2 separate regions of the Homo sapiens genome follow, and region 1 is linked to region 2. The links come from fine-mapping of genetic effects on gene expression. A gene starts in region 2. The other region holds a variant in brackets. All regions are shown on one strand. Distances are from middle to middle. Region 1 overlaps SMPD1 (sphingomyelin phosphodiesterase 1). Region 2 holds the start of APBB1 (amyloid beta precursor protein binding family B member 1).

Region 1 (5,374 bases), 24 kb before region 2:
GTATTTTTAGTAGAGATGGGGTTTCACCATGTTGGCCAAGATGGTCTTGATCTCCTGACCTCATGATCTGCCCACCTCGGCCTCCCAAAGTGCTGGGATTACAGGCATGAACCACTGCACCCAGCTTTCCAGCCCTCCCTTTCTACTCTTATCTCCAGCCACCCTCCTTCAAAGGTCTGGCAGCATAACCTCTCTATGCCCCAGCTGTGTCTTTGCTCATGTTGGCCCTCTGGAAATGATTTCCCCCTTTTTTTTAAGTGCTCCAGTTTTTCCCACCTTATCCATCCCATGTCATCTTCCCTCTGTGTGGTCCTTGCTTCCCATTCTAGCTAACTCTTATCCCTCCCCCATACTCCTGGAGCCCTCTGCCCTCAGAGTCTTTTGTGTCACACAGACCCAATAATTAGAACTGTTTGGTCTCTGGCTAGACTGTGAGCTCCTTGCAGGTGGGGAAGATGTCATGTATGCTTTTACCCTCCACCCAAATGCCCAGCACAGGAGGACCAGGATTGGAACAAGTGTTGACCTCTCATGTTTACTTTGTTTCAGAATTGGGGGGTTCTATGCTCTTTCCCCATACCCCGGTCTCCGCCTCATCTCTCTCAATATGAATTTTTGTTCCCGTGAGAACTTCTGGCTCTTGATCAACTCCACGGATCCCGCAGGACAGCTCCAGTGGCTGGTGGGGGAGCTTCAGGCTGCTGAGGATCGAGGAGACAAAGTGAGGGCCAGTAGTGGGAACACGGTGGTGCTGGGGGACAAGCAGGCTCCTGTTGAGCTGGAGCACCTCTGGGCACAGAAGTTTTATTTTCCTGGCATTCCCAACAAGTGTTCCCTGGGGATTCAGCTCATGGTCACTGTTGAAAGCCTTCATTCAGTCCCCCTTTCTCTAGCCAGGGCTGCCTGGACCCCTGGATGCCCTGATTACCATCCTTAATTCTCCCTACTAGGTGCATATAATTGGCCACATTCCCCCAGGGCACTGTCTGAAGAGCTGGAGCTGGAATTATTACCGAATTGTAGCCAGGTAGGACGGAGATGAGGGTGGGAATAGGGACAGGGTGAGTGTCTGAAGGCTGAAAATTCCCTTGAGCATCTCACCATCCCTGTTGTCCCATGGAGTGGGGAGGCTCCTCACTAGAACAGGTTGGAGAAAGAGGGCATCCTATCTCCCCAGATGTCTTCCTACCCCTCCCTAGAATCTTCTGAATGTAGTACCTTCTGGCCAGGTATGAGAACACCCTGGCTGCTCAGTTCTTTGGCCACACTCATGTGGATGAATTTGAGGTCTTCTATGATGAAGAGACTCTGAGCCGGCCGCTGGCTGTAGCCTTCCTGGCACCCAGTGCAACTACCTACATCGGCCTTAATCCTGGTGAGTGAGGCAGAAGGGAGCCTCCCTTATCCTGGAGTTGGTGGGATAGGGGAAGGAGGTTGGAGCCAGAGCCTGCAAAGCATGGGCAGGATGTGTGGCCCCTCCCTGGAGTTACCCTTGCTCCTTGCCCCTCCAGTCAGCCCCACATCCTTGCAGGTTACCGTGTGTACCAAATAGATGGAAACTACTCCGGGAGCTCTCACGTGGTCCTGGACCATGAGACCTACATCCTGAATCTGACCCAGGCAAACATACCGGGAGCCATACCGCACTGGCAGCTTCTCTACAGGGCTCGAGAAACCTATGGGCTGCCCAACACACTGCCTACCGCCTGGCACAACCTGGTATATCGCATGCGGGGCGACATGCAACTTTTCCAGACCTTCTGGTTTCTCTACCATAAGGGCCACCCACCCTCGGAGCCCTGTGGCACGCCCTGCCGTCTGGCTACTCTTTGTGCCCAGCTCTCTGCCCGTGCTGACAGCCCTGCTCTGTGCCGCCACCTGATGCCAGATGGGAGCCTCCCAGAGGCCCAGAGCCTGTGGCCAAGGCCACTGTTTTGCTAGGGCCCCAGGGCCCACATTTGGGAAAGTTCTTGATGTAGGAAAGGGTGAAAAAGCCCAAATGCTGCTGTGGTTCAACCAGGCAAGATCATCCGGTGAAAGAACCAGTCCCTGGGCCCCAAGGATGCCGGGGAAACAGGACCTTCTCCTTTCCTGGAGCTGGTTTAGCTGGATATGGGAGGGGGTTTGGCTGCCTGTGCCCAGGAGCTAGACTGCCTTGAGGCTGCTGTCCTTTCACAGCCATGGAGTAGAGGCCTAAGTTGACACTGCCCTGGGCAGACAAGACAGGAGCTGTCGCCCCAGGCCTGTGCTGCCCAGCCAGGAACCCTGTACTGCTGCTGCGACCTGATGCTGCCAGTCTGTTAAAATAAAGATAAGAGACTTGGACTCCAGACCCCTGTGTGACTGTCCCAATTTCTTCTTTCCAGGCAAGCAGGGCAAGGAGATCTTTGGAGCAAGATCATAACTGAGGCACAGGCTAATGGGTTGATGGTGTGGTACAGGCATAAGAAGGCACACAGCAGTGCAGACAGACTTTATTAGTGATATCAATACAGCAGAGGTGCCCATGGAGCAGGGGGAAGGGACCCATGCCTGGACCAGTCCCTTCCTCCTTCTGCCCCTGCTGGGTCCAGGAGGATGAGGCCTGGCCTGGACCAGTTCCTCCTGTTCCACCTGAAACACATGGGGATGGAGAACCAGGGCTGGCCTTGCTTCCTGCTCCTCTTGTTACCACTCCAGTGTTATCACTTCCTTGAAGGGATTAGATCTCTCCCTCCCCAGCTCCTAGGCAGGGAACCGTAGCTACTGGGGAGGGGCATATTTGGGAGGCCTGAGGCCTAGGAATAGCCTCTAGACCCCTCCCTGACCCACACCCTTTAGTTCCCTGGGGCCCAACACAAGCAGGTGGAGGGAAGGTGGGGGCTTCTTCATGGGGTATGGGCCCCCAGCCGTTTGGGCTTCAGGGAGCCCCACAGCGACTGAACACCCCTGCGGACAGTCCACCCTACACGCCGTGCCACAGACTCAGCAGGGGGTGCTGGGAGGCAGGAGGTGGAGGCCTGGGAACGGGCATCCAGACACTTCTGGTAGCGAAGCTGCGGAGGCAAGCAGGGCAGTCACTC[C/T]CCAGCCTACCTCCCATGGGGCCACGCCACCACCACACCACCCTACTAGTAGCTTACCATGCACGCAGCCTGCACAGCCTCTGAGAGGCTGGCAGCATTGGGCTCGCACCAGAACATGTGGCAGCAGAAGGAGGCTGGGCCGGCAGCCATGATGAATGCAAACGTGTGGACATCTCTGCCCACGGCCAGGAAGGAGAGGAAACGCACCCGACACTCTCCCAGCACTGCCTCTGTCTGCATGGAGGGAACTCAGTTAAAAAGGAACACCAACCCCACACTGTGTTCCACATCCATCTTAGCAGCTCTTCCCCTCACCCCCAGTCTCCCCTCTATGGCAAGGCGCAGCCACGACTTCTACCCCAGCTCTTTACCTGCTGGTGCAAGATGGTGAGGGTAGCAGGGGCCACACTGACATGACTTGGGGTCCATTGTTCACGGCTGCTGGAGGACAGGACTGACTCGAGGGCCCCATTAATCACATCTACCCCTAGAACATATGGACACAAGATACCACTGAGGGTAGACAGAGGATACCCCAGCTCTACCCTGGACCTCTAGTTCCACCCAATCAAACCCAGGGCCTTTGCCCCATCCCCACTTTGCCAGCCTACATTTTGGACAACGCTGTCCAAGTATCCCTTCCCTGGGGCTCTCCTCCCCTGGCTTCAGTAACTGGACATTTTCCTACTTTTTAAAATCTTGGATCCTAGGCTCGTTATTTTCACCGGCTCTGCCTATTCCTCCACACTTCTGAACTGACTGACCTCTCAAAGTTCTGATTTCCCCAAATCATGCTCTCTCAGCGCTCATCACACTCAGACATCACATTGCTTCACACCACAATAACTCCCAAATCAGACCCTACAGGCCAGTCCTCTCCCAAGACCCAATTATTTTTTAAGATATCTATCTGAGGAGTGATTACTCTGTATCACATTGTGCTAAGTCATTACAGTGTATTACCTCATTTGTGCCCACACAACAACATCACAATAGATTACTTTATTTCCATTTTACAAATAAGGAAACGGAAGAGATAGGTAATATGCCTTAGGTCACATCGAGGAATGGGGACCTGAGCTCAGGCAGTCTGATTCCAGAGCCTGGGTTCTTAGCCATGCCTTTCTCCTACCTCTTCTCTATATTACTAGTTTTCAGAACTAGAAGGGCTTTCAAGATCTTAGTTCTACTCAAGAATGTCTATAATGTGCTCAAGAGCCAAGGAACCCAAGGTTCCTGACTTTCAGATCAATCAACTTTCCCTTATAACACATGGCCTCCTCCACCTCAAACTGCTGTTAAACATTTCCCCTCATGGATCCCACTTTTGCTTGCACTCAGCAGAGCACCAAGGCAGGAGCACATGTTGTGGCAAAGGCATCAGTTCTAGTCCCCACACTCATACGCTGGCTGTGTGATCTACTGTCTCTGCACAATGCCAGTGCAAAAGGCACATGCCTCTGTGGTCCACTCCCAGGCCCTCTGCCCCTTTTAGTGGCTCTCAGCTCCCACTAGGAGCAGACCACGTGGACTCTTTTGGGCAGAGGACAAATGTCTTCCTTGCATGTCTTCTCCCATCTTGGCCTTGCTCATCTGACTTCTAGCTGGATCAAGGCCAAACTGCTCCCAAAAGCATACAAGTCTTCCAAAAACTGGCCTCACCAGAGCTGTCAAGCTTCATATTTTACTGCTCCCTGAGCTTCAGATGATTTGTGTAGCATTATTATTAACAACTAATCTTGGCAAATGGCCTGTAAAGCAGATGGGGAATACAAAGCAAGAGAAGAGAATGCCCTTGAGAGACACAGACTGCAACTGAGGGAAAAGCCTCTGTCTTGAGTGCCCTTTCCCTGCTGGACTGAGAAACTTCAGACTGTCATCCTTCAGGGCTCCAACTAGGTGCTGTCTAGGAAGCCATGCCTGCTGCAGGGCAGGGAGAGGACAACTCTGAGACAACTCTTACCATAACGTCTTGTAACTGCTGGAAAACTTTTTTCCACACTGGGCCGTGGCCATCTCAAGAACAGAAATGGAATTTAATTCATCCCTCTGTCCCCAATTCTAACACAGGGCTTATCTGCTGAAGAAATTCCAGATGCATGAGCAAGTCACTCTCAAGGCAACAAGGGCAAATGCACCCGAACTGGTAAAACCAAGTGTCACAGAAGTGGATGGGCCAGGTCAGATTGCAGAGTGCTTCAAAAGCCAGGCAGAGGGGTGTGATGTTTATGACATTTAGGCCAGGGCAATTGGAAATCTCAAAGTTCAGGTGTGTGAAAGGGACATCATAGTCAAACTGCTGAATAGATGGG
Region 2 (5,374 bases):
GCTATGTTCAATCCATCTCTAGGTACTGATGATTTCCTCTCTGAGAAAAATTTCTGGACTTCATCTACTCTCCACATCCACTACCATCAAGGACAAAGACCTTAAGACAAAATTCCCTTTTTTTTTTTTTTGCGATGGAGTCCTGCTGTGTCACCCAGGCTACAGTGCAGTGGCAAGATCTCGGCTTACTGCAACCTCTGCCTCCCGGGTTCAAGCGATTCTTCTGCCTCAGCCTCCTGAGTAGCTGGGATTACAGGCACACACCACCATGCCCGGCTAATTTTTGTGTACTTTTAGTAGAGATGGGGTTTCGCCATGTTGGCCAGGCCGGTCCTGAACTCCTGACCTCAGGTGATCCGCCCGCCTTGGCCTCCTAAAGTGCTGGGATTACAGGCGTGAGCCATCACGCCTGGCCCTTAAGACCAAATTCTTAACATGGCCTAAATTTCCTGCTCAGTCTGGCGCCTGCCTTCCTCCTCCCTGCCCCTGGCTTTGGTCACACTGCTCTGCAGCCTCAGTAGCCTTCTTCTGATTCCTCGAAGACATGTGTTTTCCTTCTACAAGGTGTTTGCATGTGATTTCCATGCTTCCTGGGACCTCTTCTCCTACTCTCTAAGCTGAATTAACTTCTACTCATCCACTATATTTTAGTTCAAACGTCATGTTCTCAGAGAAGCTGTCCTCCAACCCTCTCTCCCTATCCCCGAGACCAGTTTAGCTACTGCTCTTGTGCGTTCTCAAGGCACCATACAGCTTTTCTTCATGGTACATATTACATTTGTAATGTTATTCTTATTTGATTTTTCTCCTAGATTGTCAGCTCCAAGGACTCAGTCTCTTTTGCTCACAATTATATCTTCAGGACATAACACAGTGCCTGGCATATATTAGGTGCTGAAATCATATTTATTGCATGAATAAGTGATTGGAAGCATTTTTCAAAGGATTACTCTGGGTACTGTGTTGAGAACAGTTAAAGGGAGGTAGGCAAGAGGGTATGCTATTAAAGTAGTCAAGGAAAAAAAATGGTGGTGGCCCAGATTAACTTTGGTGGCAGTGAGGAAAGAGCGAAATGAATGGATTTGAGAAATATTTAGGCAGTGGATGTGACAGAACTTGGTGAAATGAGATGCAGAGAGTGAGAGAGGGGTTAATCTCAAGTCTTGCTCATGACTCCAGATTGGCAAAGAGCCATTTTTGAGATTCGAAGGAAGAACAGATTTGGAAGTGGGGTACAGAGAAAACCACAGAAGATAATTTAGCTTGGAATCTATAGGTTTGGAACTCCTGTTTGTCTTTCAAGGAGATGTCAAGAGAGCAGCTGGACATATGAGTCTGGATTTCAGGAAAGAAGTCTGGGCTGGATATATAAATTTGGGAATCATTAGCATATATATGAAATTTGAAGCTTTGGGAGTAGATAAAATATCTGGGGAGAAAGAACAGATACTGAGAGAAGACAGCTCGGGACAGAGCCAAGAGCCTCACCAGCATCTAAAGAGAGGAGGAGAGGAAGCAAATGAGATTGAGAAGAGCAGACAATGCTGTAGGGCAGAAAGCAGGAAAATGCTTCAAGGAGAGTGAGTTGACATACCCCACCGAATACTACTCAAAGGTAAAGGAGATAACAGTGTCCACTGGAGTTCTCCACAAGGAGGTCTCCGGTGACCTTGGCCTAGACAGTTTCAGTGGGTGTCAGGGACACAGAGTGGAGTGCTTTTAAGAATGAATGGGAAGTAAGGAAATGAAGACAGCAAGCGTTGACTCTGAAGGGCGGAGAGAGCTGGGACTATAGCTAGAGGGGCTCAGAATGCAAGAGATACACAGGCCGATACAAAACAGGTTAGGAATTGGCAGTGGGAAAACTGCTTCTAATCAGTGTTCTTGGCAGTGCTAGGCCTCCTGGCTGAGCTGGGGACACAGCCGCCCCAGGGCACACCCCTCGGTCGCTGAGGGCAACAGAATGCGGCTTGACAGATCCAGGGCCTGGGACCCCTGCTGGAATCGGCGCGGCCTGCCAGCCCACCCCACCCCACGTCCCCTTCCCGGACCTGGGCCTCCCCTCCCCCAACACCCACTGCCCCTCGCTTCGCGTCCTCCATACCCGCCCCTAGTCACCCCGAGGGGCAGGAGGTAAAGGGCAGCGGAAGGGACGGTGTGAGGGCCCGAGTGGACCCTGCGATGGTGGGTATGAGAGGACGGTCTGCGGGCGCGCGGTGGAAGGGCGACCCGGGGATGGGGGATGGGGCCGGCCGGGGGACCCGGGCTGCCGCAGGGTAGGGGCTACAGGGTCCGCCGGCCGCTGGTGATCGGGACGCAGCCACCGGGGCTGGGCCGGGGCAGGGACACCTCCTACCTGCGCGGTGAGGCCCCGGGCCCAGATGACGGAGGTGGCTCAGGCTGCGGGGTTCGGGCTCCGCCGCGGCTTCTCCATCACAACATCCCCCGCCCAGGAGCGCGCGGGCCGCGGGGCCGCGCCCCGAGCGGCGGAGGCGCGCGCAAGGGGAGGGGGAGGGGCGCCATCTTGGGGCGGGCGCGGGAGCGAGCTCGGCGGGCGCGGCACTTGCCGCAGCTTCTTGGGGGCCTCACCCTGCGGGCGGCCCTCGGACCTCGGTGAGCCCCGCGGTCCAGCCCTCCCAGCAGACACCCCTGCAGCCGACTCCCTGGGACCCCCGCCTAGCGCGGCGCCGTCCTCCACTACTATTCCACAGACTCACCCTGCGCGCCCCGCAGCGCCCTGGTCCCGCACCCACGCCGGGAGACGCGCGGACGGGGCTGGAGCCCGAATGGCGGCGGCTGTGCGGCGCCGCGGCCGCGCGGGGAAGGATTCCCGGGAGGCACTCTGCGCCGCTCCTGCTGCACCGCTCCCTGACGTCCTGGTGGGGAGGCTCTGAGGACACAGCGTTGCTCATAATAATAGCTCGTATTTATTGACCACTTACACCGTGCCGGGCTCTCTATTAAACCGTTAACGCGCATTAATCTTCACATCAGCTCTGTAAAATCACCAGAATTATTATCCTCATTTTTCAGAGGCTGAGGCTAAGATTAAGAGAGGTAAAGCGACTTGCCCGCAGTCACAGTTAGTGATGAATTTAGACTGGAACTCCGATGTTTCTTGACACTGAAATACCTCTGCTGCTGAGCATAAAGCTGACATCAAGGCCTGGAAAATGTCAAGAATACATTGCTCCCCGGTAGAAATTCACAAGGAAGGGGATATTGTGAATGAAAAGTGTAAAGATGTAAGGAAGATGGTGGGGTGCAATACTTACTACAGACCCTCCCTGGATAGTGGGATACATCCCAATGGTCAGATCAGTGACCCAGAGGCCATCAAGGATAATGAGAGGTTATATTACCATCCAGAAAGCCTCTACATGCTAATCCCTCTCAGGTGCCTAAAACTAAAGATATCCAAATCTGAGTTCGTTCTTTCTTTCAAGGCAGGGTCTCACTCTGTCACCCAGGGGCAAGATCATGGCTCTCTGAAGCCTCAGCCTCCAGGGCTCAGATTCCTCCCGCCTCAGCCCCCGGAGTACCTGGGCCACAGACATGTGCCACCGCGCCTGGCTTTTTGTATTTTAGTAGAGAGGGGGTCTCACTGTGTTCCCCAGGCTGGTCTGGAACTCCTGTGTTCAAGCGATCCTCCCACCTCGGCCTCCCAAAGTGCTGAGATTACAGGCGTCAGACACAGTGTCCAGCCTCAATTTATTGTTTCATCCCCCTTTATTAGTCTTTTAAGGAGTTTCACTGGGGTGAAAAAGAACCCTCTTCAACACACACAACACAACACACATCCCACACTGGACACAACTCCATTCCATCCATTCCAATGAATGACACCAACTACTGGCTTCCCAAGCCAGAAGCTTCAAAGTCATCTTTGAATATACTTTTATTTTACTTGTGGTAAATATAAATGTTTTAACTTTTTATTATGGCAAATTTCCAATATATACTAAAGCAGACAGAACAATATAATGAACCCTCATATACCTATCATTCAGTTTCAACAATTATGAATTCACAACCAATAGTTTATAATGATTTGACAAATGCCTATGATATATGAACCATGTATCAGGTCCCAAGCCAGGCCCTAGGGATCTAAAGACGAATCAGATTTGACTGCATCTCACCTGGAGGAAATGACATCTGACCTGGGTTCTTGAAAGATGAAGAAGAATTACCCAGAAGAACAAAAGTGTCCTCATTCATTCATTCATTCATTTTCTTTCATCAAATAATTACTATGTATGAGGTACTGTCCTTGGTGCTAGCAACAGGTCAAGAAACAAGATACAGTTCCGTCTCTCATACAGCTTGAAATTTAACAGGGGAAAGAGACATTAAATATGTAATTAGGAATGTGATGAGTGTCTTGAAGGAGATGTACCGGGAGCTATGTGAGTGGGCTTAATTTGGCCTGGGAAGTTTAGGAGGCTTTCATAGGAAGTGACAATTCAGTGAGGGAAAGGGATGAAGGAGCTAGAGGTCAGCCAGGAGAAGAGAAAAGTATTCCAAGTAGCAGGAGAAATACAGGAAGGTCAGTATGGGTGTTGATATAGTTTGGATATTTGTCCCTGATCAAATCTCATGTTGAATTGTAATCCCCAATGCTGGAGGTGGGGTCTGGTGGGAGGTGTTCAGGTCGTAGGGGTGGATCTCTCATGGCTTGGTGCTGTCTTCCCCATGATGAGTGAGTTCTTGTGAGATCCGGTTATTTAAAAGTGTGTGGCATGGCCAGGCGTGGTGGCTCAGGCCTGTAATCCCAGCACTTTGGGAGGCCAAGGTGGGCAGATCAACTTGAGACCAGGAGTTCGAGAACAGCCTGGTCCACATGGTGAAATCCCATCTCTATTAAAAACACAAAAAAATTAGCTGGGCATGGTGGCGGGCACCTGTAGTCCCAGCTACTTGGAAGGCTGAGGCAGGAGAATTACTTGAACCCAGGAGGCGGAGGCTGCAGTGAACCGAGATCACGCCACTGCACTCCAGCCTGGGCAGCAGAGTGAAACTCCATCTCAAATAAATAAATAAATAAATAAATAGTGTATGGCACCTCTCCCCCCACACTCTCTTGCTTCTGATCAGCCATGTGGGATGCCTGCTCCCACTTTGCTTTCTGCCATGAGTAAAAGCTTCCTGAGGACCCCCTGGAAGCCAAGCAGATGCTGGTGCTATGTTTCCTGTATAGCCTGCAGAACTGTGAGCCGATTAAACCTCTTTTCTTTTCTTTTTTTTTTTTTTTTTTTGAGACAGAGTCTCGCTCTGTCCCCCAGGCTGGAGTGCAGTGGCGCAATCTCGGCTCACTGCAATCTCCGCCTCCCGGGTTCACACCATTCTCCTGCCTCAGCCTCCCAAGTAGCTG

Evidence for each region. PIP is the estimated chance that this variant, and not a neighbour inherited with it, causes the effect.
Region 1: its variant is fine-mapped to the expression of APBB1 in whole blood (TOPMed, PIP above 0.99).

Annotation. Positions count from the first base shown.
Region 1 is chr11:6,392,667-6,398,040 of GRCh38, forward strand. It overlaps SMPD1 (sphingomyelin phosphodiesterase 1), which reads left to right. Exons shown (of 6, transcript NM_000543.5): 3 at 550-721; 4 at 951-1,027; 5 at 1,230-1,375; 6 at 1,532-2,330. The coding sequence ends at 1,941. APBB1 (amyloid beta precursor protein binding family B member 1) reads right to left here. Exons shown (of 15, transcript NM_001164.5): 13 at 3,434-3,549; 14 at 3,120-3,296; 15 at 2,459-3,035. The coding sequence ends at 2,868. Among named protein-coding and RNA genes, the nearest start is that of SMPD1, 4.9 kb to the left of the region's middle. The variant C/T (reference allele first, on the strand shown) is at 3,063.
Region 2 is chr11:6,416,629-6,422,002 of GRCh38, forward strand. APBB1 (amyloid beta precursor protein binding family B member 1) reads right to left here and starts at 2,466. Exons shown (of 15, transcript NM_001164.5): 1 at 2,357-2,466. RefSeq lists silencers at 2,234-2,423, 2,434-2,833.